Linked DNA regions of Homo sapiens: all the other regions are linked to region 3. Evidence: fine-mapped expression QTL. A gene starts in region 3. Each other region holds a variant in brackets. All regions are shown on one strand. Distances are between the middles of the regions. Region 1 has its middle 21 kb from the start of TMPRSS13. Region 2 overlaps SMIM35 (small integral membrane protein 35). Region 3 holds the start of IL10RA (interleukin 10 receptor subunit alpha). Region 4 overlaps SMIM35 (small integral membrane protein 35). Region 5 overlaps SMIM35 (small integral membrane protein 35).

Evidence for each region.
Region 1: its variant is fine-mapped to the expression of IL10RA in whole blood (TOPMed, PIP above 0.99).
Region 2: its variant is fine-mapped to the expression of IL10RA in whole blood (TOPMed, PIP 0.98).
Region 4: its variant is fine-mapped to the expression of IL10RA in whole blood (INTERVAL, PIP 0.99).
Region 5: its variant is fine-mapped to the expression of IL10RA in whole blood (INTERVAL, PIP 0.95).

What each region holds. Positions count from the first base shown.
Region 1 is chr11:117,947,617-117,952,720 of GRCh38, reverse strand. No RefSeq gene overlaps it. Among named protein-coding and RNA genes, the nearest start is that of TMPRSS13, 21 kb to the right of the region's middle. The variant C/G (reference allele first, on the strand shown) is at 2,842.
Region 2 is chr11:118,048,930-118,054,033 of GRCh38, reverse strand. The region is part of intron 1 of SMIM35 (small integral membrane protein 35); the gene reads left to right. Among named protein-coding and RNA genes, the nearest start is that of TMPRSS4, 26 kb to the left of the region's middle. The variant G/A (reference allele first, on the strand shown) is at 2,263.
Region 3 is chr11:117,983,959-117,989,047 of GRCh38, reverse strand. IL10RA (interleukin 10 receptor subunit alpha) reads right to left here and starts at 2,654. Exons shown (of 7, transcript NM_001558.4): 1 at 2,514-2,654; 2 at 546-666. The coding sequence starts at 2,580. RefSeq lists enhancers at 1,477-1,776, 3,167-3,226 and silencers at 2,577-2,856, 2,877-2,976.
Region 4 is chr11:118,041,035-118,046,138 of GRCh38, reverse strand. The region is part of intron 1 of SMIM35 (small integral membrane protein 35); the gene reads left to right. Among named protein-coding and RNA genes, the nearest start is that of TMPRSS4, 33 kb to the left of the region's middle. The variant AT/T (reference allele first, on the strand shown) is at 2,860.
Region 5 is chr11:118,022,105-118,027,208 of GRCh38, reverse strand. All of the region lies in intron 1 of SMIM35 (small integral membrane protein 35), which reads left to right. Among named protein-coding and RNA genes, the nearest start is that of IL10RA, 38 kb to the right of the region's middle. The variant G/A (reference allele first, on the strand shown) is at 2,648.

The DNA.
Region 1 (5,104 bases), 36 kb after region 3:
TATGTAACTACTCAGTCACCTGCGCACTGTCCGTTTGAAGTGGGGAGGTAATAACGCCAACATTCGCCATGTACCTACTTGGGTCCAGCTAATTTACCTCCATGCGCTCATTTGGAGCTACAGTCCTGAGTGGTAGCTACTCCCCACGTGGCTGCTGGGGACCCGAAAGCTGGCTAGTGTGACCTGAGATGTGCGCCTGTAGTCCCAGCTACTCGGGAGGCTGAGGCAGGAGAATGGCGTGAACCTGGGAGGCGGAGCTTGCAGTGAGCCGAGATCGCTCCACTGCACTCCAGCGTGGGCGACAGAGCAAGACTCCATCTCAAAAAAAAAACCACTGGATATCAAAGAGTTCATATTTATATATATATCCCATTCATTCTTTAATTGATTACATATCTAAATGACAATATTTTGGGTATTCCGGGTTAGAAAAAAGATATGACTAAGGCCAATTTCATTTAAAAAAATGTTTGTGACATGTAGGTACTACATTTTAAAAAATCACATATGCGGCTTGTGTTTGTGACTTGTGTTCCATTTCTAATGGGCAGTGTTGGCCTAGAAGGGAAGGGTTGCCCTCTGCCCCGCTTTTCATTGAGGACACTGAGTAGTTAAGTAACCTGCCAGGGTCCCACAGCCGCAAAGGGTGGAGGCAGGGCTGGCATCAAGCCTGTGACCCCACCTGGCCACACTGCTGTTCTTTCTGTCCTACTAAAGTCTTGAATCTGCACTGGTCAGACGAGCATATGTGCTTGAAACAAGTCATGAACAAGGAGTTTGCACCGATTCCCTGAATCAGACATGCATGGCACCTGCTGCTGTGAGGCACCAGCTCCCACTCGCAGGCTCTGTGCAGGGCATCCGCTGCGACGATGAGAGCCCACACACACTGAGTGCTCACCACCCACCAGGCATGGTGTGGGGCACTGCGTGTGTCTATCCTGATCTGATCCTCACACCGACCCGATCCAGCTGCAGTCAGGAGTTCTGGCTTATAGATGAGGCAACTGAGACTTGGAGAGATGAAATCCATTGCCCAGGGTTACACAGCCAGTGTTCAGTACAGCTGGGTTGCAATTCTGACTTTGCCTGAGCTGTCTTGCCAACCCTAGACTTAGTGGGGAGGGTGACATACATGCTCAGGTGACGCTAACACAGTGTAGAAAGTGACTGGTGATCTAGCACAGGGCCAGAGTGAAGCAGACAGGTGCCCCCTGAACTAGTAGTACTGATAAACAAGGGACACAAGAGAGCTAAACTAGAAAGTCAACGCATCCCAGATCAAATCTAGATACCAGCTGACTTTAGGCTGCAGAGAGACTCAACCACAACTTGGTCTACGTGCCAACAAGAGGAAGAAAGCCTCCGTGAGAGGGAGGGCCTCCAGTGCACAGTACAGGTCTCCCTAGGACTGAGAGGCAGAGCTTGAAGGTAGAGTGCATTTGGTGCTAGAATCCTTCTAGCAGGGTCTGGCCTGGTCAATCCTGGGATGAGGAAGGTCCTCTGGAAGGCTGAAGAGCCTACGAAGTTCGCACACCTCTCTTGTGAGGGTTTGTTGCACACTGGATGAGCAGCTGGCTTCCTGAGGGTTTGCTTCAGTGGCTGAGTCTGTCTGTAGCCTGAAGTGAGCTTCTCTCTGGGGACAGAATTTATTGCTCTGCTGACAAGAGCATTCTGGACTCTGTGGCCACCAGGTTTCTTGTGGCAAATGCATGCACGTCACTTTGGAGAATTCACTGGCCTTTGTCCTGGGCTCTCTCCCTTTGGCTTTGTCTCTGCAAATCTCAGACTATCTCCAGGTCTGGATCTTTCTAGAAAGGTTGCTTCTGTTTACCTGTTCCCCAGGTGCCACCACAGTAGCTCTGGACAGGTGGAGTCAAAAGTGGTGCTGAGCTGCAGGTGACCACCCAGGGTTTACTGCCCAGTTCCCTGGATGGATTCCAGTGGGTATTTGTGTGTATGTGTTGGTGGGGGCAGTGGAAGGGTTAATAATAGGAAGAATTCTTGCTTGTTTTGGGTTGGAGGAGGATAACTGTGTTTTTCTAAAAAGTTAAAAATCACTTTCTTATGCTTTTTGGTTTGATGTGAATCATTTCTTCAGGACCTTTTCATCTCAGAGAATTCACAAACTCAAGGTTCTGGGCTTGACAAGTGAGAAACAAACCCCAGGTTGAGGTTAAACTATCAAGATAACATCACTCCAGCCAGCCAGCTGCTTTCCTTGACGACACCCTCTACCGGAGGGTTTCTCAGCCTCAACATTTGTGACATTTTTGTCTGGGTAATTCTCGTGGAGGGCTGTCTTGTGCATTTTGGGGTTGTTAGCAGTGTCCTGGCCTCGATCCAATTGATGCCAGCGGCATTCCTCACCACTAGTTGTGACAACCAAAAATGTCTAGAGATTGCCAATGTGCCTTGATTGAGAACTGCTGCCCTATGTATTCAAAGGTTCTTTCCAATTTCAACCCAGAGCAACTGCTATGGAAGTTCAAAAGAGAGAAAGTGCTTTTATCTGAATGTTGGGGGCAGGGGGGCAAAAGAAGCATTCTTTCTTTTTTTTTTTTTTTTTGAGACGGAGTCTCACTCTGTCACCCAGGCTGGAGTGCAGTGGTGCAATCTTGGCTCACTGAAACCTCCGCCTTCCAGGTTTAAGCAATTCTCTGCCTCAGCCTTCCGAATAGCTGGGATTACAAGTGCACGCCACCACGCCCGGCTGATTTTTGTATTTTTAGTAGAGACGGGGTTTCACCATCTTGGCCAGCCTGGTCTTAAACTCCTGACCTCGTGATCCACCCATCTCAGCCTCCCAAAGTGCTGGGATTACAGGCGTGAGCCACCGCA[C/G]CTGGCCAAAAAGCATTCATTTTAAAATTCATTTATATATTTCATACGTAGGGTGTGCGTGGTTCAGGGCACAGGGATGGAGTCAGACCTGAATTTAAATCCTGCTTCTCCCACTTATTAGTTATGCCATCTTCAACAAGTTACTTAACATCTCCTGGCCTTAGTTTCCTCATCTATAAAGTGGGAATAACAGCGGTACCTGGATGCAAAGATGAAAAGAGAGATTGAAAGGAAAGAGCTTGTAAGTGCTCAATACACATTGGGGATTATATCCTAAAAATCAGCCAAGGCCTCCCTGCTCCTCAAGATTTAGATAAGACAAGCTTGAATCTCAAGCCCCAGGCCTGATGTGGTCTGGAGCCCTGCTTGAGAGGAATTTCCAGGGGGATGTGTGGGCCACCCTGCCTTTACCTCTGGGCTTCTGTTTTCAAACGTGTGTTTTCTGTTCTGCTCCATGGGTAGCAATCTCAGTTCTTCCCTTGATTTCCACCAAAACCAAGACAGAAACCAAATTAAGAAGTAAAAATCCCCTTGCATAAAACATCCATGACTATGATCGATTTTGTGAAAATGAAGGGCTCAGAGGAGAGACCACATTGTGCCCTGATTGGACACACGATTGAATGCACACATTGATCTTCCTGGCTTGAGAATCACATCGGGCGCCTTGCCATGGGAGTCTCTTATTGAGGCATCATCCTAAGTGCCGTTTCTTCTTTATCTCTGTCTTCCTTCCTCACTGTTCAATCTTCTCCTCCATCTCTCTCTGTCTCCTTCTCACCATTCAGGTGTCATCTTACATCACCTTCTTAGATAGATCCCTGACCTCATTTTTAGAGGTGCCTCCCTTCTTTCCCATTAGCCACTTCCTTTTTATTTTTATTTTTTATTTTTTGAGACAAAAATAATTTTTTTGGTGGGGGGACAGAGCAAGACTGTCCCCCAGGCTGGAGTGCAGTGGCATGACCTCTGCTCACTGCAACCTCCACCTCCCAGGTTCAAGCAATTCTCCTGCCTCAGCCTCCCCAGTAGATGGGACTACAGGCATGCACCACCACGCCCAGCTAATATTTTTGTGTTTTTGGTAGAGAAGGGGTTTTGCCATGTTGGCCAGGCTGCTCTCGAACTCCTGACCTCAGGTGATCCGCCCACCTCAGCCTCCCAAACTGCTGGGATTACAGGCGTGAGCCACTGCGCCCGGCCCTAACATCCTTCTTCTATTCCAGCATCTGATCCAGGGTGTCATAATTAGTTGCCATGTCTCCATAGGCTCCTCTTGGCTGTGACAGTCTCTGGGTAGAGGTGAGCCACCGCGTCCGGCCAAAAATATTTTTAATTAATTAATTAATTTTTTTTGGCGGGGCGGGGGGTGTCTCTCTCTGTTGCCTAGGCTGGAGTGCAGTGGTGTGATCTCCGCTCACTGCAGCCTCAATCTCCTGGGCTCAAGTGATCCTCCCCCCTCAGCCTTCCAAGTACCTGAGACTACAGGCATACTCCACCACGCCTGGCTAGTTTTTGTATTTTTTGTAAAGACAGGGTTTTACCATCCTGAGCTCAAGGGATCCACCCGCCTCGACCTCCCAAAGTGCTGGGATTACAGGAAGCCACCACACCCAGCCCCACCAGCCACTTCCTATCATTTCATATCATTTTCTTTTCTTTCTTTCTTTCTTTCTTTTTTTTTTTTTTTTGAGGTGGAGTTTTGTTCTTGTTGCCTAGGCTGGAGTGATGCCACAATCTCGGCTCACTGCAACCTCCACCTCCCGGGTTCAAGCAATTCTCCTGCCTCAACCTCCCGAGTAGCTAGGATTACAGGCATGTGCTACCACACCTGGCTAATTTTTGTATTTTTTGTAGAGACAGGGTTTCTCCATGTTGGTCGGGCTGGTCTCGAACTCCTGGCCTCAGGTGATCCGCCTGCCCCGGCCTCCCAAAGTGCTGGTGTTACAGGCTTGAGCCACCGCACCCGGCCGTCATTTTATTTTCTTTATGACACTTAATACTACAGAAATCATCAGTTTACTTACTTGTTCAGTTGTCTGTTGCCTGTCTCCCATTCCTTACTAGAATGTAAGCTTCTTGAGAGCAGGGCTCTTGTCTATGTGCACAGCACAGCACTCTTGTATCCAGAACCCCAGCTGCCTTGGAGCCAGTCTTCCTACTATAAGGTTAGGTCTGCAAATGGCGTCATGTTGACCTGATCCCTGTACCTTCATATATCCTGCACAGGATTGAACAGGGATGTCTAACGCTCAGCTTTAAA
Region 2 (5,104 bases), 65 kb before region 3:
ATCATGCTGAAAATTTAAAATAGTGAAAAAGGAAGGAAAAAAACAACAAAAAACGATCCTGTGATTGTGATTTTTGGGATTTTAGATGTTAGGGGTTTAGACTTTAGAGATTACAATCTTTCAGGATTTTAACATTTGAGGTTACAGTGTTTGCGATTGTGTCTTGGTCCAACTCCTCTTTTTCCTCTCTGAGACCTTGCAGGCAGATGTGGAGACCACATCACTGTCAGAGGAACAGGGGCTGGGGTGGGGGTCTTTGGGACCTTGAATGAGATGAGTTCTCAAAGCTTCCAGGCTAAAGAATAACATAAATGGTAGGACTTGAGCCTCCAAGTGAATAAGAGCCTTGTAAACACATTGCTTTAGGGAATTAAAGAGCTATGCTGGATGTCCAAGGAAGGCCCCACCCGTTGCCTCTAGTTCTTGGGGGAAGGCAACATTTCAGCCACCAGAGGGCGCTCAGGTTGCAGGAATGGTTTCTCAGGACTGCTGTTTGGAGGAGTTGAATAAGGAATCCAAGGAAGGGTTGCCAGAGCATGGGAGCCATGCAGGTGGGACTCCAGGACTGAAGTCCGACCTTTTCAGTCACTCTGCCATTGTCCCTGGCTGAGGCCATCAGTTAATTCATTTATTCAAGGAACATTTGCCCTGTACCTGGGAGCCCTGAGCTAGTAAGCTTTGTGTGTGTGTGTGTGTGTGTGTGTGTGTGTGTGTGTGTGTGTGTGTTTTAGAGAGTCTTGCTCTGTCACCCAGGCTGGAGTGCAACGGCATGATCTCGGCTCACTGCAACCTCTGCCTCCTGGGTTCAAGCGATTCTCTGGCCTCAGCCTCCCAAGTAGCTGGGATTATAGGCGCCCTGCCAACACGCCTGGCTAAATTTTGTATTTTTAGTCGAGATGGGGGTTTCACCATGTTGGCCAGGCTGGTCTTGAACTCCTGACCTCAGGTAATCCACCCGTCATGGCCTCCCTAAGTGCTGGGATTCCGGGTGTGAGCCACCGGACCCGGCTGTGAGCTAGTAGGCTTTGGAGACACAGAATCAGATAAGCCTGTCTGGACCCTGGAGGAACCACAGCCTAGGCTGGGAGGTGGACCTTCAACAGTGCAGTCCCCTGTGGGGTATTTGTGCTATGACAGAGGGACATGCTGAGCGTGGTGGCAGCACCCAGGATGAAGTGTTGATTCTGTCTGGGACCTGGGAGAAGGCTTCCTATTGTTGGAAGTATTTGCTGTGGGTCTCGGAGGGTGAGCAGGAGTGCCCCAGGCTGAGAGGTTCCAGGAGAGGCAGGCAGGGGCACATTATAAGCCAATGCCTATGTTTGGCTGGACAGAGAAATGCCCAGGTGGGGGTCGTGGGATGTGGCTGGAAGGAAGGGGGCGTAGGCGATCACGTTAGGGAAGAGCTAGGGGCTTATCTCAGAGGAGAGAAGCATTCTATGTGGGAGCCAGGGCAGACTCAGGTTCTGTGGGGGCCTGAGGCTTACATAGTTTTGAGGCTTTCTTAGATGAAGAATACAAAATTATAAATACAAACTTAGGAAGAGGGACTTGGAAGGGTCCGTACAAGTGAGCGGCTTGAAGCTTAGCTTGTTGGCCTCCTGGCAAATCCTCCTCTGCGTGGGAGACACATCTTCCACAATCTCCCTGCTTCCCTGCAGGGCCCCAGCCTGCCCTCAGCAGCTCCCCGCTTGCAGCAAACCACCCACTTCCCTCTCACTCCTGCCTCTCGCCCTTCTTTTGTCCCCTGGAGTCCTGAGCAGCCGTAGAAGGCCGGACGCGGGAAACTGGAGTCTGAGTTTTCCTCTGGGGAAAGGGAGGCAGAGCTGCACAGCTGTTGGGGGACGTGGGTGGGGATGACCTTTTCTATGGTGTTTATGCAAAGAGCACCCGCTACCCGCATTGTTCCAAGAGTTGCCTTTGAACCTGGACAGCAACTCTTATTCCCGCTTTAAACAATGTACAGTGTGGAAGAGTTCCCGCTCTTTGCCAGGCACTTTCACACCTCTCATGTCATCAGCGCCATGTTCTAGGGAGGCAGGCAGTACTGTTCCCTCTGCAGAAGGTTCATGATTCAGACACCTGGCAGGTGGGACCTCACACCTAGCACTCTCCCTGCGTCACCCGTGTCTCTTGTTCACAATCAACCCAAGAGTATTAGTATTAGTATAGTATTAGTATTAGTATTAGTATTAGTATTAGTATTAGTATCAACCTAAACTAAGATTGCCCTGCTGGGGCACCAGTACAGGAAAATGTGTCACT[G/A]TAGAGGTGAAACCACAGATGACATGGCTGGCTTTGTTATTCTCCCCTTCCTGTGGTGTGTTTTGATGGTAAGGGTGTGCACAGGTGGGGTGGAGCTGGCAGCCCTTGTTACACTGTCTGCACTGTAGTGAGAGTTCTCACCGTTACCCCCTTCTTGGGCTGTTGGGAGAGCTCTCGCCTGGGTTTAACCTCAATTTCAGGCTATCACCAGTGCAATGGATCGCTGAGACTCAGCCCTGATTTGCAAGATCTGCTGGGTGTTCAATATGAGGGTCTCATCCAGGGCATGGGGAGGAGAGAAGTGGCCGCTAATTTAAGTTGCCTTTAATCAAATAAAGAAAACCGAGCATCCAGCTGTGTTAGACTGTGCTAGGATAGTGCCGAATCAGGCATGGCCTTGTCCTCATGGCTCACTTCAGCATCCACGAATGGCTCCTGTGTGCCAGGCAGTGAGCTGGCTTGTGGGAGACCCAGGGGTGGGTGAGCAAGCTGTGTGCCTGAGTGTGAGAAACTCCCATCTGTTTCAGGATGTCAGCCTTTGTTATAAATCCACAGAGAACAATACAAGGCATAGCATCGTCTGTACAAAACTGGATAGGATAGTTTCTCTGCTTCTTGTGCCACCAGTTAGAATAAAAGACAATGCCTCCGATATCCACTGGTCCTTTCTTGGCTCTGCATACAGGCAAACATGAGCCTGCCTCTACCTCCCTCACACATCTTCACAAAAGCCCAGAGCAATCCCTTCTGTCTCTCCTGCTTTACTAAAGGATGAGAATCAGAAATAGGGGAATGGAATGAATCAAAGCATCTTCCCTGCCCCCAGATAAGCTCTTCTGCAGATAGGGTGGGGATGGATTGGGGGAGGTCACTGGAGCCATTTTCTACAAAGGATGCTCAAAGGTTTGGAAGTCCTGGGTCTGGGATTCAAGATGCATCCCTGTGGCAGAGGTGACAAAGGAGAGAGGAATCATCCAAGTATTTAGGTGTTTCAATGCTTCGGGCAGATCTACAAAACCCCAAAGCCTCTGAACTTGCAACCAATCAAAGCAACCCTGATTTATCCTATTTTCTGCAACATGCATGCATCGGCCGGCACTTATGATGAGGAAGCAAGGGTGGGGGCTAGAAGAGTGAGTGAAATGGAGGCTTTGAGGCAGGAGGACTGCGGGGGTGCTCAGGATGGGTGACCGCCACTTTGTATGTGTCAGTTGTTTCTGCTCCCCACCTTCTTGCCCAAGGTCTGGTGGGGATAAACGGAGAACCAAAGCTGCCTTGGGTCTCCAGATGGCAGGGGCAGCTGATGGTTGGTGTCAGTGGCTGGGTGCTAGTGCCCAGCTCACCTGGGCTGTGCATGACTCTGGCCCACTTGAGCCAGACTTGGCTTTGTCTGGGCAGGGGCCTTGGCCTAGGTTCCCCCAGCTGGCACCCCGTCTTTACAGACCTAGGAGCCCAGGAGGCCTGTGGGGCAACCTGTGCCTGGGATGCTGCCTGGGTGAAGGAAGATGTTCTGTGATTCCCCAAGGCCCTTTTCCTCTTCCATTACTTCATGTGACTCTCACAGCAATAGCACGAGGTATACATCACTCACCAGCCTCTTCATTTTATGGAAGACAACCTGGAAGGTCAGAGTGGCTCACCTGAGATTGTGCAACTGGTGTGTCCCAGGGCTGGGGCTCCAGCACACACTCCTCTGAAGGCAAGCCCTGTGCTCATTCCAGTACTGAGAGACTTCAAAGACCCTCTCTATATCCGCTCCCCACAAGGATCCTGGGCCCCTTGGTACCTTCTAGGCCCCAGTGACTCCACTTCAGCATGAGGTGGTTTGAACTCAGTGGCACAGGTCTCCACAACACCTCCCTGACTATCCTCCCTCAGCATCTAGTGTGGGAGGCACAGTTTGCACGGCGGACACATTGACGGCAATCCAAGGCAGGAGTAGTTAGTGAGGAACGTGGACTTACCCTTGCCAGACTCTTTAGATCACGCCTCCCATCAATAAACAATTTTGCGCATGCACTCTGATATTTATGTATTTATAAAGTATATTTGTATTTATACTCAAACATATATGACCATTAAAAAGCACACACGCAAAAATTAAATTAAAAGCATTAAGGATGGGCCAGGTGCGGTGGCTCATGCCTGTAATCCCAGCACTTTGGGAGGCCGAGGTGGGTGGGTCACCTGAGGTCAGGAGTTCGAGACCAGCCTGGCCAACATGGCAAAACCCCGTCTCTACTAAAAATACAAAAATTAGCCGGGCGTGGTGGTGTGTGCCTGTAATCCCAGCTACTCAGGAGGCTGAGGCAGGAGAATTGCTTGAACCCAGGAGGTGGAGGTTGCAGTGAGCAGAGATCGCGCCACTGCACTCCAGCCTGGGTGACAGAGCAAGGCTCTGTCTCAAAAAAAAAAAAAAAAAAAAAAAAAAATTAAGGGTGGAACAAACATGCGAGAATTGCAGCTTCCCTTCAAATCACTCACAGACGGTTCTGGGGTCCCCAGCCAGTGTCTCAAATTCAATGTTTGGACCAGTCTCCCGGCCACTCTTGGCAGGGGCCATTGCCCCTCTCTGGCTCTGTGTGGCATTGTCTCCTGTGGTCCCTGGTGCCAGGGCAGTGGCTACCCTGTGGAGGCCTGGAAAAGATCCCTGACCCCTGCCCACCCCTGACGTTGCTGCTAAAGCTCACGCTGGCAATGTCCCTGGGAAGTTTAGTGAAATAGCGCTCTTACTTAAAAAAATATATTTTTGGTTGCAAAAGTAGTACATTATGATTATTGGCAAAATCATCATCGTTTTCACTTGCTTTTTTTTTTTTTTTTTTGCAGCTCTTCAGCCTAG
Region 3 (5,089 bases):
GGCTCACGCCAGTAATCCCAGCCCTTTGGGAGGCTGAGGCGGGTGGATCACCTGAAGTCAGGAGTTCGAGACCAGCCTGGCCAACATGGTGAAAACCCGTCTCTACTAAAAATGCAAACATTAGCCAGGCATGGTGGTGGACCCCTGTAATCCCAGCTACTTGGGAGGCTGAGATGGGAGAATTGCTTGAACCCAGGAGGCAGAGGCTGCAGTGAGCTGAGATTGCGCCACTGCACTCCAGCCTGGGTGACAGAGCGAGAAGCTGTCTCAACGAAACAAAACAAAACAAAACAAAAAAGAGAAAAGCCTTGGCACAAGGCTTTTCTTACTCTGGAGTGAGCAAAGGCTCTGGCCTTTTCACCCAGAGCTCCCGGCACATTGCTCAGCAAGGGAGTCTCAGTCAGTACTTGTCAACTGCTGGCTATGTGTTAGGGGCCCTCAGGCACTCACTTCATTAACAAGGCAGGTATCTTCCCATGCTAGGAGAGTAGAGGACAAGGCGGGGATTCACTCCTCCCTCCCCCTCCCTCTTCCCTTTTCCTCACCTCAGGAGCGCCACTTCATAGCAGGTACTTTCAGACTGATTTGGGATGGGTGTCCAGTGGAGGATGTGGTGGAAAAATTCTGCTTCAAACCACACAGACGGAGGGCTGGGCAGCTCTGTCCCTGGGGAGAAGAGTGTCAGTACCACAGCTGGGAGGGGGGGCAGGCATTGATGACCCCAATTTTACCAAAGAAGAAAGGGAGGTTCAGAGAGGCTATGACTCGCCCGAGGCCAGCGGAGCCCGTAAGGGGCAGAGTGGGCACATGAATCCACATGTGTCTGATTCTAGAGCTAGTGTGTCTCCCTAAATCACTGCCCTGTGCTCTCTGTGATCAGAAGCTGCAGTGGGGGCTGAGAAGAGCCAAGCTGAGTCTGATGCCTACCAGGGAAGAAGGCAGGGGCCGAGGGCTAAGCAAGTTGGCAATGAGCTCTCAGATGTGTTAGTCCCTGGCTCTGCCCAATCCCTGTCCCTGCTCTAGCACTATTCCTAGGCTTGGCCCCATCCACACACCTGATCCCCACCCTGGCTTGGCCCAGGCTCCAGCTCAAAGCCACCTCACTAAGTACACAGACAGCCTGCTTGCTGACATCTGCCTCCTTCTCTTCATAGGTCTCCTGGGCTCCCCAAGCTAAGTGCTTGCCTCATTCCCTAGTTTCTGGGAGGGCTTTGCCTATAGCCAGATGTCCAACCTCTGGCTGGGCAAGGACAGATGGAATAAATCAGCTCTGGCTCTACACATGGCTGAGGACATCCCCACAAGAGCTGGCACCTGTAGCTCCGAGGAGAGATACTCAATACCAATTCCTAGCTCTACTCTCCCTTTACCCCCAGTACACACCATTCACCATGGGAAACACTGCTGAAGGCATTGTCTTCTTTGTAAGAATGCAACAAACATTTCTACTTTAAGAGTCTTGTTGATCAAGCAGACTGAAGTATGTGCAAGGCCAACGGCTGGTTGGTTCCCTTTCTCTCCTCCTTGATCCTCTAAGTTCTCTCCATTTGACAGCGACTCTGCTCCCGCTCCCTAGTGTTCTAACTTCTCTACATCTCTCTAATCATGCACCTGTTTTTTATTTATTTTTTGGGGGGGAGGACTCTGTCATCTGTCTCTTGCTTTCTTTCTTATACCGTCTTTGATCTTCACGTCAGTGCCTTGATTTCGAAACATTAGACGGAAAGTGAAAAATGCAGCGAGTCGTTGTGGTATTTGGGCTGCACATCTCCGACTCAGCTCTCGATCACGTGAATGGCTGACTGCATGTTTTACTTTGTATTTTGGTGTCATGAAGAAGCAGTTTCGGTCCTTGCTCTCTGTCTCTGCTCTTGGTCCTTCCAACTCCCGGCTCTTTCATTCTGTCTCTGGGGTTTACTTTTCTTAGTTGCAGAAACCTTGCCGGAGAACTGTCTGGGTTAGGAGCCTGAACTGGGTTAGAAGCCTGAACTGGCTGGGTTAGGAGGAGAGAGGCAGGGGGCAGTGGGAGTGAGTTGGGGGCTACAGGTGGAGCAAGGGGGATCAGATCGGGGTGATCAGTGAGGGATGAAGGTGAGATGGGAGAAGGACAGACAGAGGTTAGTTGAAGAGTCGACTAAGAGAAGGGAGAGTCAGGAGATCAAAATTATTCCCCAAGGGGACAAGAAGTCCCATCATTTGAACCTAAACAGCAAAAAACCTAGAGCTAAACTTACGGCTCATCTAGAAGTGGGTGGATGATGAGGTTTGCGGGTTGGGGGTTTGGCCTTGCGCATACTTCTCTATCCTTCCCAATCCGTCAGTTCCTGTCAATTTCAGCCTCTTCCACTTCCACAACAGGTGAGCCTGAGATCCAGGTTTGCCAGAGTAAGGGAGCACCCGGGCACCGCTCTGCCAGAGGGCCAGCCAGCCAGGGCTCTCCACTGGATGGAGAACTTTAATGGAGCGGGCGCGGAGAGGGCAGGGCAGGGAAGGGCCGCGTCCCGGAGCCTTACCATGAGCGTCTGAGCCAAGACGGAGGCTGAGGAGCGCCGCCAGCAGCACTACGAGGCACGGCAGCATCCTGGGCGCGCCGCATCGTCCGGGGCCGGAGCGGAGCCGGCCTGCGCGCCTCCAGCTACCCTTGGGCTGGGACTGACAGCTCCGCCGCCCGCTCCGCCAGCGCCCCGCAGGGCTGACGTCAGCGGGGCGAGGCCTACAGACGCCCCGCCCCCGAGGCCGCGGACGGGGAACCACTGTCCCACAGGGCTACCGCCTGGGGCAACCCGAGGCTGTCCTGGGGCGCTAGCGGGCTCCGGCCACCCCTCCCTTTCCTTCCCTCTGGGCCTCCAGTGCCTTCGGATCAAAGTGGTCCGGGTAGCCCGGCCGGCCGTGGGTACGTGTGTGTGGGTGTGTGCGCGCGCGCGTGTGTGCATGTGCTGGGAAGCAGGTGGCCAGGCACAGCCTCGGCCCTGAGTGCGGAAGGTGGGGTGAGGGCGTCCGAGCCGCTTTTGCCTGGCGTGCCGGCTTGGCGTTAAGGATGTGGCCGCGGCCGCTCCGAATGGGGAGGAGGTAGTTGCAGGCCCTTGAGGGCAAAGGCGCCAGGACGCCGGTGTGAGTCTTGGCGTTGCCCCAGGGCCTCCCCGTCTGGGGGTCTGAGGACACCGATGGATGAATACTGAGTAGTCCCCTACCTAATTGTTGGAGGGGGGTCCACAACTAAGCAGTTTATGCAGACCTGCCCCCAAAGTCCCAGGAAGCTGAGAGACCCAAGAAAGAGGCTTTTAACCAGCAGCTCAGCAGCTGAGCCTCAAACCGCGATTTTTAAAATTTTTTTATCTATTTTTTTTTTTTACAGTCTCGCTCTGTCGCCCAAGCTGGAATGCAGTGGCGTGATCTCGGATCACTGCAACCTTCGTCTCCCAGGTTCAAGCGATTCTCCTGCCTCAGCCTTCCGAGTAGCTGGCATTACAGGCATGTGCCACCACGCCTGGGCTAATTTTTGTATTTTTAGTAGAGACGGGGTTTCACCATGTTGGCCAGGCTGGTCTCGAACTCCTGACCTCAGGTGATCCACCCGCCTCAGCCTCCCAAAGTGCTGGGATTACAGGGGTGAGCCACCGCGCCCAGCCTTAAACCGTGTTTTAAACTTAGTTTCTCTTCTTTCCTTTTTTCTCTTCCTCCTCTGGGCCTCAAGATATAATTTTGAGACAAACTGCATGTATGTTACCTCTCATCTTAAAACACAGCCTCAGGACGTGCTGTGACCTCCACTCCCTTTCCTGTCCCATACTGTACTCCCATGCCTTACGCACGTTTATTTACCTACGTGCTTGTTAAGCACACGCTATGCTCTTACCTGGTCATATATTTCCTTAGATGCCTCAGGAGCTGCGTCCTGATAGGGACCAGGCACCTCCGGAATTCTCTCTCCAACAAAAGCTTACTTCAGGAGTTGAACATATACCCTGCTGAAGAGTAACTAATTTATAACCTGGCAGGATCCACGATTGCACCAGCCCCTCCACCAAATAAGACGATAATTAAAGAGGACCACTGGAGCAAGTCACACCACCTGGTACCTCCTAACCTCCCCCTTGCCTTTTCTGCATTTCAGATCCTTTCTTAAAAAACCCCTGCGTTCCCCCCATGAATTGAAGAGTGGAATTGTTTGCTGCTCTTCCCCTGCTAGCATGGCAGCTAGCAGATTTTCCTTTATTATCCATTCTTTCTACAAGCAGAGAGCAGCCAGATCCTTTTGCAGGTTACAGGCTGACACATCCAGTTTCTTCGAAAAAAACATTTAATAAGGACTTATAAACAGAAGCTACGTTTGTGTCTCCATGATTCACCCCCAGGACCAGGGCTTATAGACCACAGGGGAAGGGTGATTCAGAAAAGATGTGTAGGACAGTTGAAGTATGATAACATCAAGGTTGTTTGACCTAAGGGCCGGATTTACAGTAAGTGTTTGCACTTACACAAGGAGCAATTGATAAATTGGGAATCTCAGAGGTCTTCTGGGAGGCTCCAAAGCCAACACGGCCAAAACTGTGGATTAGCATCCAACATGGAGTTGCTTTAGCCTCCATAAGGACTTCTCCCAGTCTCTTCTGGGTTTCCCTTGCTTGCTTGAAATCTGATATTCAGACCAATTTTTGTGTTGGGTAATAGCACTACTGGAGTGCTGGGTAACACCTCAGCACATCCTCAGTCTCTCGCACCTCTGTGTCACTTGGCTCATCTGAGGCCATCTCCAGGTGAACCAAATATGTGAGGATATGAGAGACAGACTGTCCATCACTTTTTCTTGGAGGCTGACACCTGCTTCAAAGTGTGTGTGTGTGTGTGTGTGTGTGTGTGTGTGTGTGTGTGCACTTGCAGTCATATATGATTTGCAGTGGCCAGTCTGTGGATTTGGATTTCATTGTGGTGTGGAGAACGTTGTCTGTTTGCCAAGTGCATATGTGTGTTTGGGACTGTGTGTGCATCCCTCAAGCCCTGCCCTTGTTCTCAGACAAACCAAAGAAGAGGGGCTCAGGACATTTCTGGCCAGCAAGGCCCCACTCCAGGCCTGCTGCCCCACCCACCC
Region 4 (5,104 bases), 57 kb before region 3:
GGAGGACAAAGGCTACTGATAAATTATTGAAGAGCTGCCAACACTCTATGCTGTTCTAGAAAATTTCACTCTAAGTGAAGGAAAATAACTTATTGAATATCTACCATGTGTCAGGAGCCATATAACTCTCCTTTCACATACACGTCTCACTTAATCTTCACGTTAACCTTGTGAAGTTAATATTTTAATCCCCATTTCAACATAAGAGAGGATTAAAACTCAATCTTGCCCAGAGTAATGATATTTTAGCTTCCAGATGGCCTGGCTCCAAGTCTTTTTCCGTCATCACACACTGCTAAAGCAAATATCCCGATGGTCAAGAGTTAAAAAGATCTGCCTGAAATCTGCTGTCTGTTCATTCATTATACTGGGTTGAAAGATTCAGAGCTGTACATTATCAGAGAGAGAGTGAAGGTAAAGTTTAGAGAGCAGTAAACAAACCAATGGGTCTAGTTTCAAACAGGAGATACTTGATTTTTTATTGTTATGTGATTGGTTTGTTTTCTTCAGCAATATTATTCATCACACAAATATTTCTATTGCAAAAGATGAAAATCATGTGAAATTGATGATACCTGTTTTTGACCTTTAAAAATGACAATTTTATATGGTTCAAGCTAATACTAAGGCAAAACTTGAAAGGCTCTTTTTACTTCTACTCCCTACCCCACTCCCCTGGTTCTTCATAAACCCTATCATCACCTGCTTTACACCTGCCCTGACTTGCCTTAATCATAGGGAGAACCGCAACTTGGTGACAGCCTTTCTCTCTCTCTAGTGTGTGTGTGTGTGTGTGTGTGTGTGTGTGCATGTGTGTATACCATAACTAGAATTATGTGATATCTATTCTTCTGCAACTTGAACTGATCTTTAAAACGTGGAATTGATGAGCAACAGATGAGCAACAAAGGAGGAATTCTTGATTCCAGCTGGAGAAAAGTGTAGGCTCCATAAAACCTGATGTATTGAGGGTGAGGGGGCCTAGAAGCCAATGGAGATGAAAATGTTCCATTTTTCTTGCCAAACCTGGACCTTGGGCAATATCATCTCCACATCTGCCTCCACCATTGATCCTAATAGTAAAGCCTAGGGCCTCCCACTAGGGTCTGTTGTACTTAGGTTTTGAGTTTTAGAACTTCCTTCTGATTTTGTTTGATGTGTTGCTAATCTTCCAGGGGGTTGTGCTGCTTGCTTCTTCATTTTTTGTTTTGTTTTGTTTTAAAGTTCCTTGTCAGTATAATCTAAAAGCTAGAGATGTCCAATCACCTGCTGGAGGTTTCTTCTAAGTGATCAAACTAGGAGGTTTTTTGTTTGTTTGTTTGTTTTGTTTTTTTTTTAGTAGAATGAACTTTTTTTTTTTTTTTTTGGAGATGGAGTCTCACTCTTGCCCAGGCTAAAGTACAGTGGTGCAGTCTCGGCTCACTGCAACCTCTGCCTCATGGGTTCAAGCAACTCTCCTGCCTCAGCCTCCGGAGTAGCTGGAATTACAGGTGCCCGCCACCACGCCTGGCTAATTTTTGTATTTTTAGTAAAGACAGGGTTTCACTGACCTCAAGTGATCTGCCCACCCTCAGCCTCCCAAAATGCTGGGATTACAGGCATGAATCACCGCACCCATCCTAGAAGGAACTTTAAATGGGAGTTGGAGGGGCATCTGGAGAGAAATCATGATTTAGATGGGCGGTGGGATGACCATTTGCAAGATCTCCTGGCTTTAGGTCAGTTCATCCAAATGGCTTGGTAAATAGTAAGGTGCATAATGCCACCATTACCTTCATGCTGCTTGGCACGTACTCACGGCTGCATTTTTTTTTTTTTTTTTTCAATTCTGCCAGACTTCTCAGTGACTAAGATTTGGTTTCTGGAATATGAGTAGATGGATAGATAAGTACAATTAGGGTAGATTCTTACCTAAGTGTAAGGATCTTGATACCTCTGCTTTTTGCATGGGTTTTGAGTGTTACATATCTGCAGGAAACCTGGATTATAGAAAATGCATTTCAATGCACTTCTTCAAGTTTAAGGATTTAGGAACTCCTTCTCTCCAGGGGATAATTTAGACAGAGATAAATATAGGTTGGCATTTTATCGCTTTTTTAACAGCTTTGTTTAGATATAATTCACATAACATACAATTCTCCCATTAGAAGTATATAATTTAATGTTTTTAATATATTCATGCATATCTGCAGCCACCATTACAGTCAATTTTAGAACATTTTCATCGCCTAAAAAAAAAACCCATACCCTTTAGCTAAGATAACCCCCTCCTTTTCTCCCCACTTCCCCTGGCCCCCCCATAACCTACTTTCTTTTTCTTTTCCTTTTTTTTTTTTGAGATGGAGTTTCTCTCTGTCGCCCAGGCTGGAATGCAGTGGTGCGATCTTGGCTCACTCCACCTCCCGGGTTCAAGCGATTCTCCTGCCTCAGCCTCCCGAGTAGCTGGGACTACAGGCGCCCACCACCACGCCCAGTTAATTTTTTGTATTTTTAGTAGAGACAGGGTGTCACTGTGTTAGCCAGGGTGGTCTTGAAATCCTGACCTCGTGTTCGGCCCGCCTCAGCCTCCCAAAGTGCTGGAATTACAGGTGTGAGTCACTGCGCCCAGCCTCTACTTTCTTTCTCTATAGATTTTCCTCTATAGATTTTCTGGATATTTTGTATAAATAGAATCATATAATATGTGGACTTCTGTGACTGGCTTTTTTCACTTAGCATAATGTTTTTGAGGTTCATTCAAGTGGCATGTATCAATACTTCATTTCTTTATATGACCGAATATTCTGTTATATGGATATACCACATTCTGTTTATACATTTGTCTGTGGATTCCTTAAGATTTTCTTTAAAAAAAAAAAA[AT/T]GTTTTACCAAATACCCAGACTTCAAGGAGGAGGATTTTCCATATGTAAGACTGTGTTATCTGTGAACAGAGATATTTTCATTTCTTCCTTTCCAATCTGGATACCTTCTATTGCTTTTTCTTGACTATTTCCCTGGCTAGAACCTCCAGTACAATGTTGAACAGAAGTGGTGAGACCAGACATCTTCGTCGTGTTACTGATCCTAGGAAGAAAACATCTGCCTTTTACCATTTAGCATGATTGCTGTGGGTTTCTCATAAAGGCTCTTTGTCAGGTTGAGGAAGTTCTCTTCTGTTCCTAGTTTGTTGAGTGTTTTTATCATGAAAGAGTGTTTGATTTTGTCAAATGCTTTTTTTGCATCTATTGAGATCATCATGTGATTTAAAAAATTCTACTGGTACGATGTGTTACAAGAATTGATTTTCAGATGCTGAACTAATCTTGCTCTCGAGGGAGAAATCCAGCTTGGTTATGATGTATACTTATTTTTAGATACTGCTGGAATTGGTTTGCTAGTATTTTGTTGAGGATTCTTTATTCTTTTTCCACATACAATCATTCCTAATTGTTGAGGATTTTTGCGTCCATATTCATAAGAGATATTTTTTCTCTGGTTTTCTTTTCTTGTGATGTCCTTGTCTGGTTTTGACATCAGGGTAATATTTGCCTTATAAAATGAGTTGGGAAGTGTTTAGCCTCTTCTATTTTTTGGAAGAGTTTGTGAATAACTGATATTAATTCTTCTTTAAATGTTTGGCAGAATCAGTGGGAAAGCTAATTAGGCTTGGGTTTTTCTTGTGGGTATTATTTTTTATTGCTAGTTCAGCCTCTTTATTTGTTATACTTATTCAGATCATCTGTTTCTTCTTGAGTCAGTTTTGGTGGTTTGTGTATTTCTAGGAATCTGTCTATTTCATCTAAGTTATCTATTTTGTTGGTGTACAACTGTTCATTGTATTTCTTATTATGTTTGTTTCTGTAACGTTGACAACAATGTCCCCTCTTTCATTTCTGATTCTAGTAATTTGAGTCTTTTTTTTTCTTGGTTAACTTAGCTAAAGGTTTGTCAGTTTTGTTGATCTTATGCCAATTTTTTGTTTGTTAGTGTTCTCTATTGTTTATTTTCTATTTTATTAGTTTCCACTCTAAGCTTTATTTCCTTTCTTCTGCTTGCTGTAGTTGAGTTTGTCTTTCTTTCTCTCTCTCTCTTTTTTTTTTTTTTCATTTGTGACAGAGTCTCACTCTGTTGCCCAGGCTGGAGAGCAGTGGTGCAATCTTGGCTCACTGCAACCTCCACCTCCCAGGTTCAAGCTATTCTCCTGCTTCAGCCTCCCGAGTAGCTAGGATTACAGGCATCTGCCACCATGCCCAGCTAATTTTTGTATTTTTAGTAGGGACAGGGTTTCACCATGTTGGCCAGGCTGGTCTTGAACTCCCAACCTCAAGTGATCCACCGACTTCGGCCTCCCAAAGTGCTGGGGTTACAGGCATGATCCACTGTGCCCGGCCTGTGTTTCTTTCTCTAGCGTCTTAGAAGATTAACTGGAAGATTAGGCCATTGATGTGAGATCTTCCTTCATTCCTAAAGTAGGCATTTACAAATATAAATTTTTCTCTGATCATTGCATCCCACAAGTTTTGGTGTACCGGGTCTTTATTTTCATTCATCTCCAAGTTTTTTAAATTTCCCTTTTGATTTATTCCTTGATCCATTGGTTATAGGTCGTATTTAGGAGTGTGTTGTTTAATTTCCACATATTTGTAGAATTATTCCCATTTATTTTGCTATTGATTTCTAATTTTATTTCATTGTGGTCAGAGAATATACTTTGTATTATTTTTATTCTTTAAATTTTATTGAGGTTTGTTTTACGGCTTGGCATATGGTCTATCCAGGGGATGTTTTATGTACACTTGAATGCATATTTTGTTGTTGAGTGGAGTGTTTTACAGATGTCTGTTAGGTGTAGTTGGTCCGTAGTGTTGTTCAAATCTTCTATTTCCTTGATCTTCTATTGAGTTATTCTATCCAATATTAAAAGTGGAATTTTGAAGCTTTCACTTATTATTGTTGAGTTTTCTATTTCTCCCTTCATTTCTGCCAGTTTTTGCTTCATGTATTTTGATGCTTAATGTTTTAATTATTTTTTCACTATTTTTAAGTGGTTACTCTAGGATTTACCATGTACATCTTAGCTTACCAGAGGTCACTTCAGATAGCTTAATACCAGTGATGTATAGAA
Region 5 (5,104 bases), 38 kb before region 3:
GAAAATACAAAAAATTAGCCGGGCGCAGTGGCGGGCGCCTGTAGTCCCAGCTACTCGGGAGGCTGAGGCAGGAGAATGGCGTGAACCCGGGAAGCGGAGCTTGCAGTGAGCCGAGATTGCGCCACTGCAGTCCGCAGTCCGGCCTGGGCGACAGAGCGAGACTCCGTCTCAAAAAAAAAAAAAAAAAAAAAAGTGGTGGTGGTGGATTTTTAAAAAATTCACATAGCTGACAGCCTGTTGGAGAAACATCTGAGAATTTTCACCTGTAGCAACATATGTGGGGCAAAAGTTGTATTGACCTTTTCTTAAATTTGGATTTTGTGAAGAGGCATATCAGTTTACCATAGATTCTTGGCTACCGAGACTTATATAAGACCTGCATTTTATATTTTTATTTTTTAAAAAAAGAAACAGGGTCTCACTGTGTTGCTCAGGCTGGTCTCAAATTCCTGGGCTCAAGCAATTCTCCTGCCTCAGTCTCCCAAAGTGCTGAGGATTACAGGCATGAGCCACCACGCCCAGCCTAAGACCTGCATCTTAATGAATGCAGAGTTGGTAGATACATTATTTCCCTCTGTAAAATCCTAGGTAAGGGTTCATGTGCCCATCTGATGTCCCAATTATTTTGGCCAGTAATTAGAATATATTAATTAATCAAGCAAGAAATTTATTCTGGCAAGATCACCAAGAGTGATTTTTCTAAAGCCAGATGTTCTAGTGGGAGCCCCAAGATAATATATCTGTTTGGAATATATTAGCCACAGAGAAATCACCTTTAATTATTCATATAGTAGAGATATCCTAGACCTATTTCTGAGAAAAACTGTGGCTGTGCCTGAAGATTGGCCCACCTCAGTATAGGCATTGACCAGGAGAGAAAAAGGGTCAGGCTTCTCCATTTCTATTGAGGAAATACTCCCTCATCCCCAGCTTTTTCATTTTCTATGTTTAGTTCTAAAATATGTGGCTTTACCACAGGCATCACATTACCCAACTTCAAACTATACTACAAGGCTACAGTAACCAAAACAGCATGGTACTGATACAAGGAGACACATTAGACCAATGGAACAGAATAGAGAACCCAGAAATAAAGCTGCACACCTACAACCATTGGATCTTTGACAAAGGCTACAATAATAAGAAATGGGGAAAGGAGTCCCTATTCAAAAAATGGTGCTGGGATAGCTGGCTAACCCTATGCAGAAGATTGAAACTGGACCCCTAACTTTCACCATATACAAAAGTTAACTCAAGATAAATTAAAGACTTAAATGTAAGACCTAAAACTGTAAAAATCCTAGAAGAAAAGCTAGAAAATACCATTCTGGACATTGGCCTTGGCAAAGAATTTATGACTAAGTTTCCAAAAGCAGTTACGACAAAAATAAAAACTGACAAAAGGGACCTGATTAAACTAAAGGGCTTCTGCACAGCAAAAGAAACTATCAACAGAACAAACAGACAACCTATAGAATGGGAGAAAATATTCACAAACTATGCATCCAACAAGGGTCTAATATCTAGAATCTATAAGGAACTTGGGCAATCTGACAAGCAAAGACCAAATAACCCCATTAAAAAGTGGGCAAAGGACATGAACAGACACTTCTCAAAAGAAGACATACAAGTGGCCAACAAACACGAAAAAATGCTCTCAACATCACTAATCATTGGAAAAATGCAAATCAAAACCACAGTGAGATACCATCTCATGCCAGCAAGGAAAGCTACTATTAAGAAGTCAGAAAATAACAGATGTTGGCAAGGCTGCAGAGGAAAGGGAACGTTTACACACTGTTGGTCGAAATGTAAATTAAAATGTAAATGTAAAATGTAAAGTTCAGTCACTGTGGAAAGCAGTTTGGAGATTTTTCAAGGAACTCAAAACACAACTACCATTTGACTGCACAATCTTATTACTGGGTATATACCCAAAAGAAAATAAGCAGTTCTACCAAAAAGTCACATGCACTCATATGTTCATTGCAGCACTATTCACAACAGCAAAGACTTAGAATCAACCTAGGTGCCCATCAACAGTGGAGTGGATGAAGAAAATGTGGTACATATACACCATGAAATACTACACAGCCATAAGAAAGAACAAAATCTTCTCCTTTGCAGCAAAATTGATGAAGCTAGAGGTCATTATCCTACGTAGATTAACACCAGAACAGAAAACCAAATACCACATGTTTTCCGTTACAAGTGAAAGCTTAACACTGGGTACATATGGACAGGGAAAAATAGACACTGGGGACCACTAGATCGGGGAGAGAGGGAGAGGAGCAAGGGTTGAAGAACTAACTATTGGTAATAGTAATGCTCACTACCCGGGTAATGGGATCATTTGTATCCCAAACCTCAGCATCATTCAATATACTCATTTAACAAACCTGTACATCTACTTCCTGAATCTAAAATAAAAGTTGAGGCTGGGCACGGTGGCTCATGTCTGTAATCCCAGCACTTTGAGAGGCTGAGGTGGGCAGATCACCTGAGGTCAGGAGTTCGACACCAGCCTGGTCAACATGGTGAAACCCCACCTCTACCAAAAATACAAAAATTAGCCAGGCATGGTGGCGGGCAGCTGTAATCCCAGCTACTTGGGAGGCTGAGACAGAAGAATTGCTTAAACCTGGGA[G/A]GTCGAGGTTGCAGTGAGCCGAGATCACACCATTGCACTCCAGCCTGGATAACAGAGCGAGACTCTGCCAAAAACAAAACAAAACAAAACAGAACAAAACAAAACTGGCCTCACCCTTTATAAGCAATACAGTGAACATGTAGCTCAGGACCTTACTAGACACCATACCCTTGACCTGTATATTTTCCAACCTATACATATGGTTTAGTTAAAAAGAATGATTCTTACGGAGGGTCGGTTGAAAGGAAATGTAGTCTATTTCTTCCTAAGGATAGTTTAGGCCTTCCTTGATGTAATAAAAAAAGAGTTATGATATCAACCATGGGCACCAGAATTCCTCATAGGAAAAGAAATGTCTTGTTTGAACAAATAACTTGACAGGTTCTTCAAAATTGGAAAATTGTTGGCCATATCTCATCAAAATTTTTTTTTCTGTTTTCCCTCGTTTTCTCCTTCAGGGAATCTAATTACACATATATTAGGTGGCTTGAAGTTGTCCTGCACCTCACTAATACTCTTTTCTTTCTTTCTTTCTTTTTTTTTTTTGGAGAAGGCATCTCACTCTATCACCCAGGCTGAAGTGCAGTGCAACCTCCACCACCCAGGTTCAAGCATTCTCCTTCCTCAGCCTCCCGAGTTGCTGGTATTACAGGCACACGCCACCACACCTGGCTAATTTTTTTATATTTTTGGTAGAGATGGTGTTTCACTATTTTGGCCAGGCTCGTCTGGAACTCCTGACCTCAAGTGATCCATCCACCTTGGCCTCCCAAAGTGCTGGGATTACAGGCGTGAGCCACCACGCCCAGCTTTTTCATTTGTTTTATTACTTTTTTTCCCCTCTATGTCTCACCTTGGATAGTTCCTATTGCTATGCCTTCAAGTGCACTACTTTTTTCTTCTGTGATGCCTAGTGTGCTGTTAATTCCATTCAATGTAATTTTCATCTCAGATGTTGTAGTTTTCATCCCTGGAAATAATTTGGGTCTTAAAAAATGGGGTCTTTTACACAAGAAGGGGAACATCACACTCTGGGGACTGTTGTGGGGTGGGGGGAGGGTGGAGGGATAGCATTAGGAGATATACCTAATGCTAACTGACGAGTTAATGGGTGCAGCACACCAGTATGGCACATGTATACATATGTAACTAATCTGCACATTGTGCACATGTACCCTAAAACTTAAAGTATAATAATAATAAAATAGAAAAAAAGGGTCTTTTATAATTTGAGACTTATTGAATCTCTCTTTCTCCCTCTCCCTCTTTTTCACACACACATGAAATTGAGGCTTTTGGTGGTTAAATAACTTGCTGAAGGCCTCAGACTGATGAGTGAATAGGATTCAGACCCAGGCTGCAGGATTCCAAGGCCTGTGCTCTGTTGGTTGTTCTGTTCATTATGGGTCATTTTGCTCTGCCTCTCTGAGTGCCTGGTAATATTTGACTGAATGAGGATATTGTGAATTTTACTTTGCTGAGTGGTAGATATTTTTGTTTGCCTATAAATATATTGGGAAGCAGTTAAGTTAGTTGGAAGCAGTTTGACCTTTTTGGGTCTTGGTTTTATGATTTGTTAGATGGGTTCGGAGCAGTAGACAAATCATAAAACCAAGACCCAGTGTAGTGGAAATAATTAGCCTTAGGCTGAACAGTCTAAGGCTAATTATTCTCACCACTAAGGCAAGAACTTCCTGAGTTCCCTATCCAATACCCTGTGAATTACGAGTTTTTCTAGTCTGGTTTATGGGAATAGGCCCTGCTTCTAGCCCTATTTGAATGCTAGACACTGTTTCCCACGAATGCTTTCAGATGATTCTCTGGCCTCAGGTAGCTCCTTTATACACAGGCACTCATTACTTATTGAATACTTGAGGGGGTCCCTCTGCACATAGCTGGATTCTTTACCTGATGTAGCTCTTTCCTCTGTCTTGTGAACTTTAGCTGCCTTGGACTGTCTCCTCAACTTACATTTTTGCTATGTTGTGTTTTCAATATCATTCAGATCTAAGTATTTTCTAATTTCCCTTGTGATATCTTCTTTTACCCAGGATGTTTTTAGAAGTGTGTTGTTTAATTTCCAAATATTGGGATGTTTTCCAGATATCTTTTTGTCTTTATTTTCCAATATAATTCTGTGGTCAGGGAACATATTGTATATTATTTTAACTTTTAAAAATTTATTGAGATTTACTTACTAAGACTTATTGTTGGGCCAGGGGCGGTGGCTCACGCCTGTAATCCCAGCACTTTGGGAGGCCAAGGCAGGCGGATCATGAGGTCAAGAGATCAAGACCATCCTGGCCAACATGGTGAAACCCTGTCTCTACTAAAATTACAAAAATTATCTGGGCATGGTGGCAGGCACCTGTAGTCCCAGCTACTCGGGAGGCTGAGGCAGGAGAATCACTTGAACCTCACTTGAACCAGGGAGGTGGAGGTTGTTGTGAGCTGAGA